Linked DNA regions of Homo sapiens. The protein of the gene in region 1 interacts with the protein of each later gene in a biochemical or structural test. Each region holds a gene or a part of one and is shown in the gene's direction. Other genes may lie near its edges.

The links. Proteins that work in one complex are often made in the same cells at the same time.
Region 2: the proteins of ALDOA (region 1) and PLD2 form a complex in vitro, tested with the Homo sapiens proteins (one study listed by BioGRID).

The regions. Positions count from the first base shown.
Region 1 is NC_000016.10:30,061,911-30,068,761, forward strand, and holds the start of ALDOA (fructose-bisphosphate aldolase A), read left to right. Parts: upstream 1-3,849; 5' UTR 3,850-4,017; intron 4,018-4,974; 5' UTR 4,975-4,987; coding exon 4,988-5,128; intron 5,129-5,323; coding exon 5,324-5,456; intron 5,457-5,539; coding exon 5,540-5,751; intron 5,752-6,735; coding exon 6,736-6,790; intron 6,791-6,851. Other genes in the region: uncharacterized protein LOC112694756, read left to right, coding at 1,819-1,932. UniProt on the Homo sapiens protein: Catalyzes the reversible conversion of beta-D-fructose 1,6-bisphosphate (FBP) into two triose phosphate and plays a key role in glycolysis and gluconeogenesis. In addition, may also function as scaffolding protein.
Region 2 is NC_000017.11:4,810,152-4,817,182, forward strand, and holds part of PLD2 (phospholipase D2), read left to right. Parts: intron 1-650; coding exon 651-800; intron 801-4,266; coding exon 4,267-4,350; intron 4,351-4,481; coding exon 4,482-4,560; intron 4,561-5,324; coding exon 5,325-5,435; intron 5,436-5,612; coding exon 5,613-5,783; intron 5,784-6,390; coding exon of another isoform or gene 6,391-6,429; exon of another isoform or gene 6,430-6,468; coding exon 6,469-6,595; intron 6,596-6,785; coding exon 6,786-6,904; intron 6,905-6,924; coding exon of another isoform or gene 6,925-6,994; coding exon 6,995-7,031.

The DNA.
Region 1 (6,851 bases):
AAAAATATAAGGCTGGGCGCGGTGGCTCACACCTGTAATCCCAGCACTTTGGGAGGCCGAGGTGGGCGGATCACCTGAGGTCAGGAGTTCGAGACCAGCCTGACTAACATGGTGAAACCCTGTCTCTACTAAAAATACAAAAATTAGCTGGGTGTAGTGGCGGGCGCCTGTAATCCCAGCTACTCAGGAGGCTGAGACAGGAGAATCACTTGAACCCGGGAGGCAGAGGTTGCCCCAAGCTGAGATCCCACCATTGCACTCCAGCCTGGGTGACAGAGCAAGACTCCGTTTGAAAAAACAAACAAACAAATAGATCTAATTCTTTTGAAAACATTAAAATTGATTGGGCGCAGTGGCGCATGCCTGTAATCCCAGCACTTTGGGAGACCAAGGTGGGTTTAGCCCAGGAGTTTGAGACTAGCCTGGGCAACATGATGAAACCCTGTCTCTACAAAAAAATACAAAAAATGAATTAGCCAGGCGTGGTGGCACGTGCCTGTAATCCCAGCTACTTGGGAGGCTGAGGCAGGAGAATCGCTTGAACCCAGGAGGCGGAGGTTGCAGTGAGCCGAGACCGCGCCATGGCACTCCAGCCTGGCAACAGAGCGAGACTCCGTCTCAAAAAAAAAAAAAAAAAAGTACAAAAAATGAGCCGAGCACGGTGGTTCATGCCTGTAATCCCAGCACTTTGGGAGGCCAAGGCGGGCAGATACCTGAGGTCAGGAATTCAAGACCAGCCTGGTCAACATAGCGAAACCCTGTCTCTACTAAAAATACAAAATTAGCCAAGTGTGGTGGCACATGCCTGTAATCCCACCTACTTGGGAGGCTGAGGCAGGAGAACCGCTTGAATCCAGAGGTGGAAGTTGCAGTGAGTGGAGATCACGCCATTGTGCTCCAGCCTGGGCAACAGGAGTGAAACTCCATCTCGGAAAAAAAAAAAAAAAAATGGCCGGGCACAGTTGCTCACTCCTTTAATCTTAGCACTTTGGGAGGCTGAGGCAGGTGGATCATCTGAGGCCAGGAGTTCCGAGACCAGCCTGACCAACATGGTGAAACCCCCATCTCTACTACAAATACAAAAATTAGCTGGGTGTGGTGGCTCACGCCTGTAGTTCAGCTACTCAGAAGGCTGAGGCAGAACTACTTGAACCCAGGAGGTGGAGGTTGCAGTGAGCCAAGATCGCACCATTGCACTCCACCCTGGGCAACAGAGTGAGACCCTGTCTCAAAAAAAAAAAAAAAATTAAAAATAGGTAAATTGCCATTTTCAAAGATACCTGTAAAGATTTTTAAAATCATTCATGAATGCGGTCTGTTCGTTGCACAGAGTAGATGCTCAAAAATGGTGAATGAGACCCTCTATTTTGGTCTCATGCTGAAGAAGTCCATAAAGCCCACAAGTCATTTTCATGATGGACAGAAAAATGTGTGTGCTTTCTCTGTCTACTGCCTCAACTGCACAGACCCCGGGACTGTAGCAGAACCATCTTTTGAGCTTGACACCGGGAGGCCCAAATTCTAGCACGGGACCCAGGGCCAGTTGCTCTCTGGTCCTCAGTCTCCTCACCCATAAAATGGGAAGGAGAGAACCCTGAATCATTGCTTCTAGCTTCTGAACTCAGTTGTTCAGAACAAGGACTCACTGCTGATTTTTCAACAGCACAGGGAATTGCACTGTTCCTGGGAATGATGGACAGTACCCTCTGTTCCACTGGGCAAGTGAGATTTCCCAGGCCTCTCTGTTCCCTTCTCCCCTTAGAGAGCAACAGACGTGGCCCCATCCCACCTCCCTCAACCCTCTCTCTCCTCCCTCAGGACTGGGCACCTCGCTGCCCCCGCTGCTGCCCACTCTGCGACTGTGCCTGTACGTGCCAGCTCCCCGACTGCCAGAGCCTCAACTGTCTCTGCTTCGAGATCAAGCTCCGATGAGGACCCAGGGCCCCTGCCCTCTGGGGAGCGGCCAGCCCCCAGGGCCCATGTGCCCTCCTCCCTGAAGAGCCTTTCCCCACGCCACTGGAACCACAGATGGCCTGCCGAGCACCCAGGCCTGGGAACTGGAAGTGGCAGCGCAGGGCCTGGCTCCCTGCAGGGCAGGACTCTTGGCCGGCTGGACGGCAGCTCCTCTGGAGGGCCAGAAAAGAGAGGGGCTAGTGCTCGGGCAGGTGCCCTGGCTTCCCTTCCCCTCCACACGTCAACGATTCTATTTGAAGTTGGGCAGGGGGGTGGCGCTGCTCACCACACACAAGTGTTATAGGAGGAGTCTGGCCCTTGAGTACCGGGTACGCAGGGGTGCCTCAACCACACTCCGTCCACGGACTCTCCGTTATTTTAGGAGGTGAGTGTAGTGCCAGTATCTACTCTCCTTCTTAAAAAAAACCAGGGCTCCAGAGAATCAGAACAGCCACCATCACCGCAGGGAGTCAAGGGAGGAGGGAGATTAGAGAAGGAGCCAGGGAGGGTGGCAGGGAGGCCACGTGATCCGAGTCCCCTCACCCCTTTCCTTCCCACAGGTCCCTGGCCAAAGATTTATTTCTCTTGACAACCAAGGGCCTCCGTCTGGATTTCCAAGGAAGAATTTCCTCTGAAGCACCGGTGAGTGGGCAGGGGCTCCCTCCCCATCAATAGGGCCGACCCAAGTCTTCCTCCCCCTTCCCCCATGCCGGGCCCCACGATAGTGTGAATGTCAGGGGCTTCAGGTTTCCCTAAATATAGGTCCCTGCCAGAGGATCCGTGGCGGGAAAAGGGCAGGGGTCATTAGAGAAGATCGGGGACACATGTGGGGCGGGCAGGAGCTGCCTTATAACCAGCCCGGGAACCCCTAGCTCACTCGCTGCTGACCAGGCTCTGCCGGCTCCTTCGGCCTCGCCGCAGGTGGGCCCCTTGCAGGACCGGGCCGGGGTGGGGATGGGGTTGGGGTTGGGCCAACAGGGTCCAGATGGGGTCCAGGTGAGGAGGGGAGATTTGGACGATAGGAGCAGGGGGCTCAGCATCTGGGAGGCAGATCAGTTCGGGGACGGATTTTCTTTTGGAGAAGGAAGTCAGGCTCAAGGAAGACGTTTGGCAGGAACTGTGACCCCGCATGCCAGAGGCCGAGCAGCGGCCGGTGCATAGCCGCGCATTCTGGTTTTCTGTGGCGCAGAGGACTACCAGCCTGGCTGCGGCGGCCCGGCGGAGAGCGCGCACGCATGCGCGACCCAGCCCGGCCTGCCAGCCTGGAACTCGGATGGGGAGGTCTCGCCTCCGCGCGCCGCTAGTTCCGCCGCCTTCTCGCGCTCCCTGCGTGTCCTCTCGATGCCCTTTCCTCCGCCTCCCTTACGCCTGGGCCAGTGACAGGGTGTCGGCTCCGCGCCGATTCAGCCCGCGGGCGAGGCAGGCTAACGCACGACTGCGCGATGTGGCCCCTATGGTGACACGCGCTGCAGCCGCGAAGACCGGAAGCTGGGGCGGCCCCGGGCCGCGCGCGCTGGGCCTGGGAGGCGAAACTCAGCTTCCTTCGTTTCCGACTTTTCCATCCGCGTCCTCCACTTCCCCGTTCCGCCCTCCCCCATTGCCAACATTCTGGCTGAGTCACGGCGCCCCAGAGCGCGCCAGGCTGGGGGAAAGGAGCAGAAGGGAGGGCCCTAGCGACCCGCGGGATGTGGTCCGAGTCACGTCCGAGGGGGGTGGGGAGGGATCGTGTTCTCGGCGCCCGCCCCTTCCTAGCGCGGCCTCTGGGCTGCGCCTCTCGGGGGCGGCCCGTAGCCCAGTCCGTCGCCTGCCATTGGACGCCGCCCGCTCCTCGTAAAGGAAAAAGCTCGGCGGAGGGCGGAGTGGTGCCTTTAAAAGGCCGGGCGCCGCCTTCCGCCTGCCCGCCTCCTGCGCCGCCCCTTCCGAGGCTAAATCGGCTGCGTTCCTCTCGGAACGCGCCGCAGAAGGGGTCCTGGTGACGAGTCCCGCGTTCTCTCCTTGAATCCACTCGCCAGCCCGCCGCCCTCTGCCGCCGCACCCTGCACACCCGCCCCTCTCCTGTGCCAGGTGAGCGCCCCTCTTCACGTGCGGGGACCAGGGACCGTGGAGAGGGATCTTGGGGGCAGTGGCGGGTTGGGCGTCCGCGTGGAGGCCTCCCCCATCCCATGCCAGCGTCTCCCCACTACCAGGCACACACAGGCTCCCCGGCCCCTCCAGCCTGAGGTCCTCTAACTGCGCAATGCAGCGGCTGCGCGCGCTGAGTCATGGCGGGGGAGGAAGCCGGACGAGATGAAGGACCATTCTCCCCCTTTTCTTGCAGGGACCCCTGTGGCAAAGGATTAGGGCCCCTTAGCCCTGGCGGGGATCCTAAGAGGCAGTGAGGGGTGGGGGCCGGCCCATGTACAGCCCCAGGGTTCTCGCAAGTGGGAGCTTGGTTTCTGTCCTGGGAAACGGGGCGCCCTTCGCGAGGAGGGAAACCCCTCCGCGGTGCTTGATGCCCCCTTAACACTTTCCCTGTCTCTCCTTATCGGGCGACCTTGATTCTGAGCCCGGAACAGCTGCAGCCATGCGAAGCGACGGGAGCATTTTTCAGGGGAAGGCGCTTGCTCCTCCACGTTCTTGCCCCGTAGGAACAGTGACGATGGCAAAGCTTACCGCTTTCCTCGCCTCGGGCTAGGGCTTGTTCCGCCGCCCTTTCCTGGGCTTCTCCTTGCTCTCTTATATTTTTCCTAATGCCCCTTTCCTACCACCCGCCCCCTCCCTTGTGGGGAAAAGCCTGACCTTGGGATGTCCTTGAAGCCTTGGAGCCCGGGCCAGCCCTGGGATCTTGAGGGGATTGGAAGGAACACCCCAGTGGCAGTCAGAAGAGCTGGGTTCTAATCTCAGATCTGGCTCCGGGGTTGCTGTGTGGCTTGAAGCACAGACCTTTCCCATATCTGGGCCCTTTCCCACGAGGGTGTTGGGCCCTCTGCTTGATTCACGATCTTTACATTCTAAAATACTCCGGTTCGGTTTTGTTTTCAGGCAAGGTGACCCCATGGCAAGGCGCAAGCCAGAAGGGTCCAGCTTCAACATGACCCACCTGTCCATGGCTATGGCCTTTTCCTTTCCCCCAGTTGCCAGTGGGCAACTCCACCCTCAGCTGGGCAACACCCAGCACCAGACAGAGTTAGGAAAGGTACAGGGGCAGGCCTAGCAAAGGGAAGTTGGGCGTAAGAGAGAGCTGGGGACCAGAAGTGCCCCAGGGCCTGCTGGGTGTGGGGCAGGGGAGGTAGGGAACATTTCCCTGACCTCCAGGAGAGGGGCCCTGGTCATCGGGAGATGATGGGAAACCCTAGCTAACTAGTCCTTCCCCTCTGTTTCCTGTATCCAGGAACTTGCTACTACCAGCACCATGCCCTACCAATATCCAGCACTGACCCCGGAGCAGAAGAAGGAGCTGTCTGACATCGCTCACCGCATCGTGGCACCTGGCAAGGGCATCCTGGCTGCAGATGAGTCCACTGGTGCGGGCAGGAGACAGAATGGGTGGAGGGTGCAGGGTTGGGAGTGGCAGGCTGATCCCCTAATTCCCATGTGACACTCCCAGGGAGCATTGCCAAGCGGCTGCAGTCCATTGGCACCGAGAACACCGAGGAGAACCGGCGCTTCTACCGCCAGCTGCTGCTGACAGCTGACGACCGCGTGAACCCCTGCATTGGGGGTGTCATCCTCTTCCATGAGACACTCTACCAGAAGGCGGATGATGGGCGTCCCTTCCCCCAAGTTATCAAATCCAAGGGCGGTGTTGTGGGCATCAAGGTAAGGGGAGGGCCTCCGGACGTGAGGTTTGAGATGGAAGTGGAGGAAGGAAATCCAGGTTAGTGAGGCAGGGAATGAATGCTGGATTGGTGGCCTAGAGACTTGCATGGAGCCTGCTTCAGGCTTAGGGCATTTACTCGACATTTTTAATCCTCACAATTCTGAGAGAACAGTATCATTCCCACTTTACACATGAAAATCTCAGAAGCTCAGGGAAGTGAAGTGTTTTGCTCAGAGTAAGTGGCAGAGCCCCAGTCTGACACCCAATTCACTCAACATTTCTGTTGTCAAATAACATCCCAGTGTATCCTGTCTCAGAGGATTGTTACTAAGTGAACTAAGTGAAAATATTTTAATTTAATTGTAACTAAGTATTTGAGTAACTAAACATTTTAAGTAAATTTTTTTTTTTTTTTTTTTTGAGATGGAGTCTCGCTGTCTCCCAGGCTGGAGTGCAGTGGTGCGATCTCTTGGCTCACTGCAAGTTCCGCCTCCCAGGTTCACGCCATTCTCCTGCCTCAGCCTCCCGAGTAGCTGGGACTACAGGCGCCCGCCACCACCCGGCTAATTTTTTTTGTATTTTTAGTAGACACTGGGTTTCACCATGTTAGCCAGGATGGTCTCGATCTCCTGATCTCGTGATCTGCCCACCTCGGCCTCCCAAAGTGCTGGGATTACAGGCGTGAGCCACCATGCCCGGCTTAAGTAACTAAATATTTTAATTGTAACTAAGTGAAAATATTTGCCAGCCCTGAGATGCAGTTTAAGGGATTAAGTAAATGTGGGGGAAGACTGGGGCTAAAGAAGAGGAAAGAGGGGCACGCCCAGCTACCTAGGAGGCTGAGGCGGGAGGATCACTTGAGTCCAGGAAGTGGAGGCTTCAGTGAGCTGAGATTCCACCACTGTACTCCAGCCGGGGCGACAGTGGAAAGGGTGCTAGAGGTCATTTCCTGTGTCTTAATGTTGTTACCCTGACCCCAACAGGTAGACAAGGGCGTGGTCCCCCTGGCAGGGACAAATGGCGAGACTACCACCCAAGGTGAGAACTGTTTGATTCTCTGCCCTACGAACCCAACCAGAGCAGGTTTGGGTGCTGGGAG
Region 2 (7,031 bases), on another chromosome or scaffold:
ATAGTTTTGAACCAGGAACTGGTCTAGCCAGATGCTTGGGACTGCTCTTAGACTGGGCCCAGAGAAAGGGGATTAGTAGAAGCCTGGGAAGGGAACTGCTGACATAAACGAAATTCCATTTGTTCATTTGTTCATTCAACAAACCCGAGTGCCTGGTACAATACTGGTTGCTGATGCAATACTAGGATCCAACTATGAGTAAGGTGGATATGGCCGGGCGCGGTGGCTCACACCTACAATCCCAGCACTTTGGGAGGCCGAGGCGGGTGGATCACCTGAGGTCAGGAGTTCGAGACCAGCCCAGCCAACATGCTAAAACCTTGTCTCTACTAAAAATACAAAAATTAGCCGGGCGTGGTGGTGCGTGCCTGTAATCCCAGCTATTTGGGAGGCTGAGGCAGGAGAATCGCTTGAAGCTGGGGTGCAGAGGTTGCAGTGAGCAGAGATCGCACCACTGCACTCCAGCCTGGGGGACAAGAGCTAAACTCTGTCTCAAAAATAAATAAATAAATAAGGCAGATACATACACGCCCTATCCCTGTGCAGTTGTGATTAGGGACTAAGGGAGGAAGTGGGAAAGGGGAGGTCTCTAGGCAAGATCACAGGTATGGAGGGCGAGGATTTATGGACATCTCATCGTTCCCATCCAGGTCCTTGATTCTCAAGTGCAGCAGCTACCGGCAGGCACGGTGGTGGGCCCAAGAGATCACTGAGCTGGCACAGGGCCCAGGCAGAGACTTCCTACAGCTGCACCGGCATGACAGCTACGCCCCACCCCGGCCTGGGACCTTGGCCCGGTGGTGAGACACTGACATCCCTTCTGAGCTTGTCTGTGGCTTTCTTGACCCCCTGTGTAATCTCTGAGTCCTTCATCCTCTCTTTTCTCATCTGAACCCTCCTGACCTCAATGACCCGCCCCGTGACTTCTTTAATCTTCCTGACCTTTGACATCTTTAACCACATTGATCTCTCTGATTTCGCGCCGACCTTTCTGACCCCCAAACTTGGTCATCTCTTCTGACCCTTGACCTCTCTAACCTCCTATAACCTTTTAAACCCCTCTCTACAATACTGACCCTCTCTGTTCTCCATGATCTTCTCAAATCTCTCTGATTTAGTCCTTCATTTAATAAACATTTTCTTTTCTTTTTTTTTTTTTTTTTTTTTGAGAGAGAGTTTTGTTCTGTTGATCTCGGCTCACTGCAACCTCCGCCTCCCAGGTTCAAGCGATTCTTCTGCCTCAGCCTCCCGAGTAGCCGGGATTACAGGCGCCCACCACCACACCTGGCTAATTTTTGTATTTTTAGTAGAGACGGGGGTTTCACCATGTTGGCCAGGCTCTTCTCGAACTCCTGACCTCGGGTGATCCGCCCGCCTCGGCCTCCCGAAGTGCTGGGATTACAGGCGTGAGCCACCGTGCCCAGCCTTAATAAACATTTTTCTAAGCACCTAGCAGTGCTGGCAGTAACACACAGTCCTCTCTGGGTTAGGGAAGTAGGTGATCAAATCGTGAAACAATGTGAACTTGCCGTACTGGTGATAGGTAGAAGGTGACACGCACAGACAGGAAGTACCTGGCCCAGCAGGGATATCAGGACAGGTTTCCAGGAGGTGGTGACCCTCAGGTAGTTTTGCTTTAAATCAGAGACTGACACAATATTAATTTTGTTGGTTTTTGTTGGAGACAGTGTCTTGCTCTGTCACCAGGCGTGTAGTGCAGTAGTGTGATCATGGCTCACGGCAACTTCAACCTCCCAGGCTCAAATCATCCTCCTGCCTCAGCCTCCCAAGTAGCTGAGACTACAGACACATGCCACCACACCCGGCTAATTAAAAACATTTTTTTTTACAAAAAATTTTAAAAATTAGACGGGTGTGGTCTCGAACTCCTGGGCTCAAGGGATCATCCTGCCTCGGCCTCCCCAAAGTGCTGGATTGCAGGCATGAGCGACAGTGCCTGGCCTATATACTTTTTTTTTTTTAAGGCAGAGTTTCGCTCTTGTTGCCCAGGCTAGCGTGCAGTGGCACAATCTCAGCTCACTGCAACCTCAGCCTCCCAGGTTCAAGGGATTCTCCTGCCTCAGCCTCCCAAGTAGCTGGGATCACAGGTGCATGCCACCACACCCAGCTAATTTTTGTTTTGGTTTTTTTTTTTTTTTTTTGAGATGGAGTCTGTCTCTGTCACCAGGCTGGAGTGCAGTGGCAGGATCCCACCTCACTGCAACCTCTGACTCCCCGGTTCAAGTGATTCTTCTGCCTCAGCCTCCTGAGTAGCTAGGATTACAGGCATATGCCACCATGTCCAGCTAATTTTTGTATTTTTAGTAGAGCCAGGGTTTCACCATGTTGGCCAGGATGGTCTCGATCTCCTGACTTCGTGATCTGCCCACCTCGGCCTCCCAAAGTGCTGGGATTACAGGCTTGAGCCACTGCACCTGGCTATAAACTTCTAAAACAGCCAAAACCAATCCACAGTGATGGAAATCAGATCAGCAGTTGCCTGTGGCAGGGTATGGGGAAATGATTGCCTATAGTGGGGCACACGAGGGAACATTCCAGGACGATAAAAATGTCCTATATTTTGATAGGACTGGTGATTGCGTGGGAACATACACTTGCTGATCCTCATGGAACTATACAAGATAAAGAAAATGCAGAACAGTCCAGGCACAGAAGACAGAAATAGCTCAGGGTGTTTGGGAACCACCAGGACATATTGTTGTTACTGAGTGAGGAGGAGCAGTCAGAGGAGAAGCTGGGAGTCAGTGGCACCTGATCTCACAGGGTCCCATGTGCTAATATCACAGGCACACAGGGCAGTCATGGAAGGAAGTTTTGTTTGTTCGTTTGTTTTGTTTTGGTTTGGTTTGGTTTTTGAGATGGAGTCTGGCTCTGTCGCCCAAGCTGGAGTGCAGTGGCGCGATACCAGCTCACTGCAGTCTCTGCCCCCTGGGTTCAAGCGATTCTCCTGCCTCGGCCTCCTGAGTAGCTGGGATTACAGGCGTGCACCACTATGCTCAGCTGATTTTTGTATTTTTAGTAGAGATAGGATTTCACCATGTTGGCCAGGCTGGTCACGAACTCCTGACCTTAAGTGATCCACCCGCTTCGGCTTCCCAAAGGGCTGGGATTACAGGCATGAGCCACCTTGCCCAGCCTTCCTGCATATTTTCACATGTGCATGCACGTGTTACTTTTGTTTCAACATAAATGAGATCATGCAACCTCTTCTGTGACTTATTTTTTCACTTAATACCTGTGTGAGAGATTAGACACTTATATTATTTCCCATTTTTCACTCTTACAAACAATGTGATGAACACAACATTTGCCTAGGCATTGTATTAGATGTATTCCTAGACATGTAATTACCATGTATATTTAATGATATTAAAGGGTATATGCATTTAATATTTTGATACTGCTGACCAGTCGCTTTGGCTCATGCCTGTAATCCCAGCACTTTGGGAGGCCGAGGCGGGTAGATCATTGGGGTCAGGAGTTCAAGACCAACCTGGCCAACATGGCAAAAACCCGTCTCTACTAAAAATACAAAAATTAGCCAGGCGTGGTGGCGGGCGCCTGTAATTTCAGTTACTTGGGAGGCTGAGACAGGAAAATTGCTTGAACCCAAGAGGCGGAGGTTGCAGTGAGCCAAGATCATGCCATTGCACTCCAGCCTGGGTGACAGAGCGGGACACCATCTCCAAAAAGCTATATATATATTTTTTGATACTGCCAAATTGTCTCCTAAAAGTTATATTCCCATAGTCTATGAGAATACCCACTTCCCCAGCATATTGAATATTGATATTGAATGTTACCAGTGATTTGAATTATTACCAATCTAATGGATTTTTTAAATGTAATTTCATTTTAATTTCGTTGTTTACTAGTGAAACTGAACATTTGCCACGATTGGCCATTTTAATTTCTCTGTGAACTGTCAGTTCTTACTCTTTGCTCATTTTTCAGTTGGCTCATGTGACTTTTTCTTGTCGATTTATTGGTGTTCTTTATGTATGATGTATTAATCCTCCTGTTCTTTAGTTGATTAGGTTATTGTGTCTTTTTGTAATTTTTATTTGTATTTAGCGCATATGGGCAAACACTATTTTGATGTGTCTGATACCACTTGTGTTCTCTGATCATTTCTGATCTTTGACCTTGCTGTCACCTCTGACCCACGACTGTCCTCCGGTCTTCACTCTCCAGAGCTTTCTGGCTTCTGACTCCCCTGACCTCCTTGGCTTGGCCTCCCCCCAGGTTTGTGAATGGGGCAGGTTACTTTGCTGCTGTGGCAGATGCCATCCTTCGAGCTCAAGAGGAGATTTTCATCACAGACTGGTGGTGAGTGGGAAAAGGCCCCAACAACATGGGGCAGGATAGAGCCTGGGGCAGATCAGCATTAGGAGGAGAAGGGGGGTGCAGCTGGTGGTCTGGGGCTTCGTTTGCCCCTAATCCACTGCCCTGAATCCCAGGTTGAGTCCTGAGGTTTACCTGAAGCGTCCGGCCCATTCAGATGACTGGAGACTGGACATTATGCTCAAGAGGAAGGCGGTGAGGAGAGTGGTCAGGCCGCAGGGGGAGGGGGTTGCCTGTGGGTGGAGGTTGATTAGCAGGGCTGCAGTGTGGGAGAATTAGGCAGTCTGAGGCTTCAGGGGAGGGAAAAGTGTCCATCCTGGCCCAGCACCTGTCAGACATCACCTCCGCCCTCTCCCTCTGCCCTAAGGAGAACTGACAACTTCCTCTTCATGCTCCCTCCACCTGGCAGAGACTTCCCTCCCAGTATACATAATACTTTATTGTGTTATCTGGGGGTATACATGTCTATCTCTCTCACTGGACTAGTTAATATCACTGTTCCACTACAAGGCACAGTACCTGCCATGGAGGGGGCATGTGTGGTGTTGATGGACAGGAAGAAGGATGCATGGATGATGCAGGGTGGCTGGGCAGGTGGATGGATAGAGGACAGAAAGGGTGATGGATGGAAGGATATGAGTTGGAAAGGTGGAGGGCTAGGAGGGTAGGCAGGTAGATGGATGAATGATAGACGGTACATAAAGGGATGAGTAAATGCTTGGGAAGATGGATGGATGGATGATGAAGGGTGGGTGGATAGATGTGTGGATGGGTGAGTGGGTGAGCACACAGATGACATTTAGTCTAAGTCTGTGGCAAGCAGCAAAGCAGGGCATATGTGGCAGAGCCTCTAGGATCTCCAGACAAGCTGGAGGGACACACGTGGAAAAGGTTTGGGAGTGTGGAAAGGGGCTACTCTGGGAGAGGCACTAGGATCTGATTCCCCAACTCACCACCAGGAGGAGGGTGTCCGTGTGTCTATTCTGCTGTTTAAAGAAGTGGAATTGGCCTTGGGCATCAACAGTGGCTATAGCAAGAGGGCGCTGATGCTGCTGCACCCCAACATAAAGGTGACTCTCGGCCTCAGAGACCCTCCCACATGACAGCCCTTCTCCCCACACTGTCCCAGCCCCCAGCGCTCCCGCTCCCTGATGGTCTCATCTTTCCATCTTTCCTCTCTCCCTCCCAGTACCTCCTGTTTTCCTTCACCTAAACCCACCCTCATGAACCCTCCATGCCTGCTCCAGGTGATGCGTCACCCAGACCAAGTGACGTTGTGGGCCCATCATGAGAAGCTCCTGGTGGTGGACCAAGTGGTAGCATTCCTGGGGGGACTGGACCTTGCCTATGGCCGCTGGGATGACCTGCACTACCGACTGACTGACCTTGGAGACTCCTCTGAATCAGCTGCCTCCCAGGTAATCCCCCTGAGGCCTTCCTGAGCACCCCCAAACTCAGATAAGCTCAATCAACACCATTTCCCAGCTCCAGCCTTACCCCCTCAGTCATTCCAGGCCCTGCCAACCTCAGGGTTCCTCAGACTTTCTGGGACTCCAAGAACCCACTTTGAAAGTGCTGTAACTGGCCGGGAGCCATGGCTTATGCCTGTAATCCCAGCACTTTGGGAGGCCAAGGCGGGTGGATCACCTGAGGTCTGGAGTTCGAGACCAGCCTGACCGACATGGTGAAACCCTGTCTCTACTAAAAATGCAAAAAATTAGCTGGGCATGGTGGCAGTTGCCTGTCATTGAAGCTACTCGGGAGGCTGAGGCAGGAGAATCACTTGAACCCAGGAGGCGGAGGTTGCAGTGAGCCGAGATTGTGCCATTGTACTCCACCCTGGGCAACAGAGCGAGACTCTGTCTCAAAAAAAAAAAAAAAAGTGCTGTCACCCACCCAGTCCTTTCCCCATTTTCACTGACCATCACCCCATTCCTCTAAAAGTGTCAAAGGCAACTGGAGGGGAGGGCTGGGGAATCAGACCCTCTGTTTCATTCTTCCTCTCGGTCTCTCTCACTCTTTCAGTGCTCCTCTCTTTGGCCCTGGCTCTGTACAGCCCCATGACTTCCCCTTGCCCCTGGCTTGGGTGTGTTCCCCCTACAGCCTCCCACCCCGCGCCCAGACTCACCAGCCACCCCAGACCTCTCTCACAACCAATTCTTCTGGCTGGGCAAGGACTACAGCAATCTTATCACCAAGGACTGGGTGCAGCTGGACCGGCCTTTCGAAGGTGAAGCCTCCCACCCGCCAAAGCCCCAGAGAGCTGAGAGCAGGGTCAGAAGCTGGGGCTGGTACTGAGAGTGGGATGAGAGGGGTCAACGGTGGTACAGCCCTCCCTCTGGCAGGCTCTTTCTCCCTGCCCCAAGTGTCCCAAGGAGTCCAGCCCTGACATCTCCCCTGACTCTCCTGGGACCCCCCAGATTTCATTGACAGGGAGACGACCCCTCGGATGCCATGGCGGGACGTTGGGGTGGTCGTCCATGGCCTACCGGCCCGGGACCTTGCCCGGCACTTCATCCAGCGCTGGAACTTCACCAAGGTGTTCATTCCCTCCGATAGGGGCTGGAGGTAGGGAGGGAGCCAGGGCAGATTGGCACCTCCTGCTGACTCTGCCATCCCTCCACGTCAGACCACCAAGGCCAAGTACAAGACTCCCACATACCCCT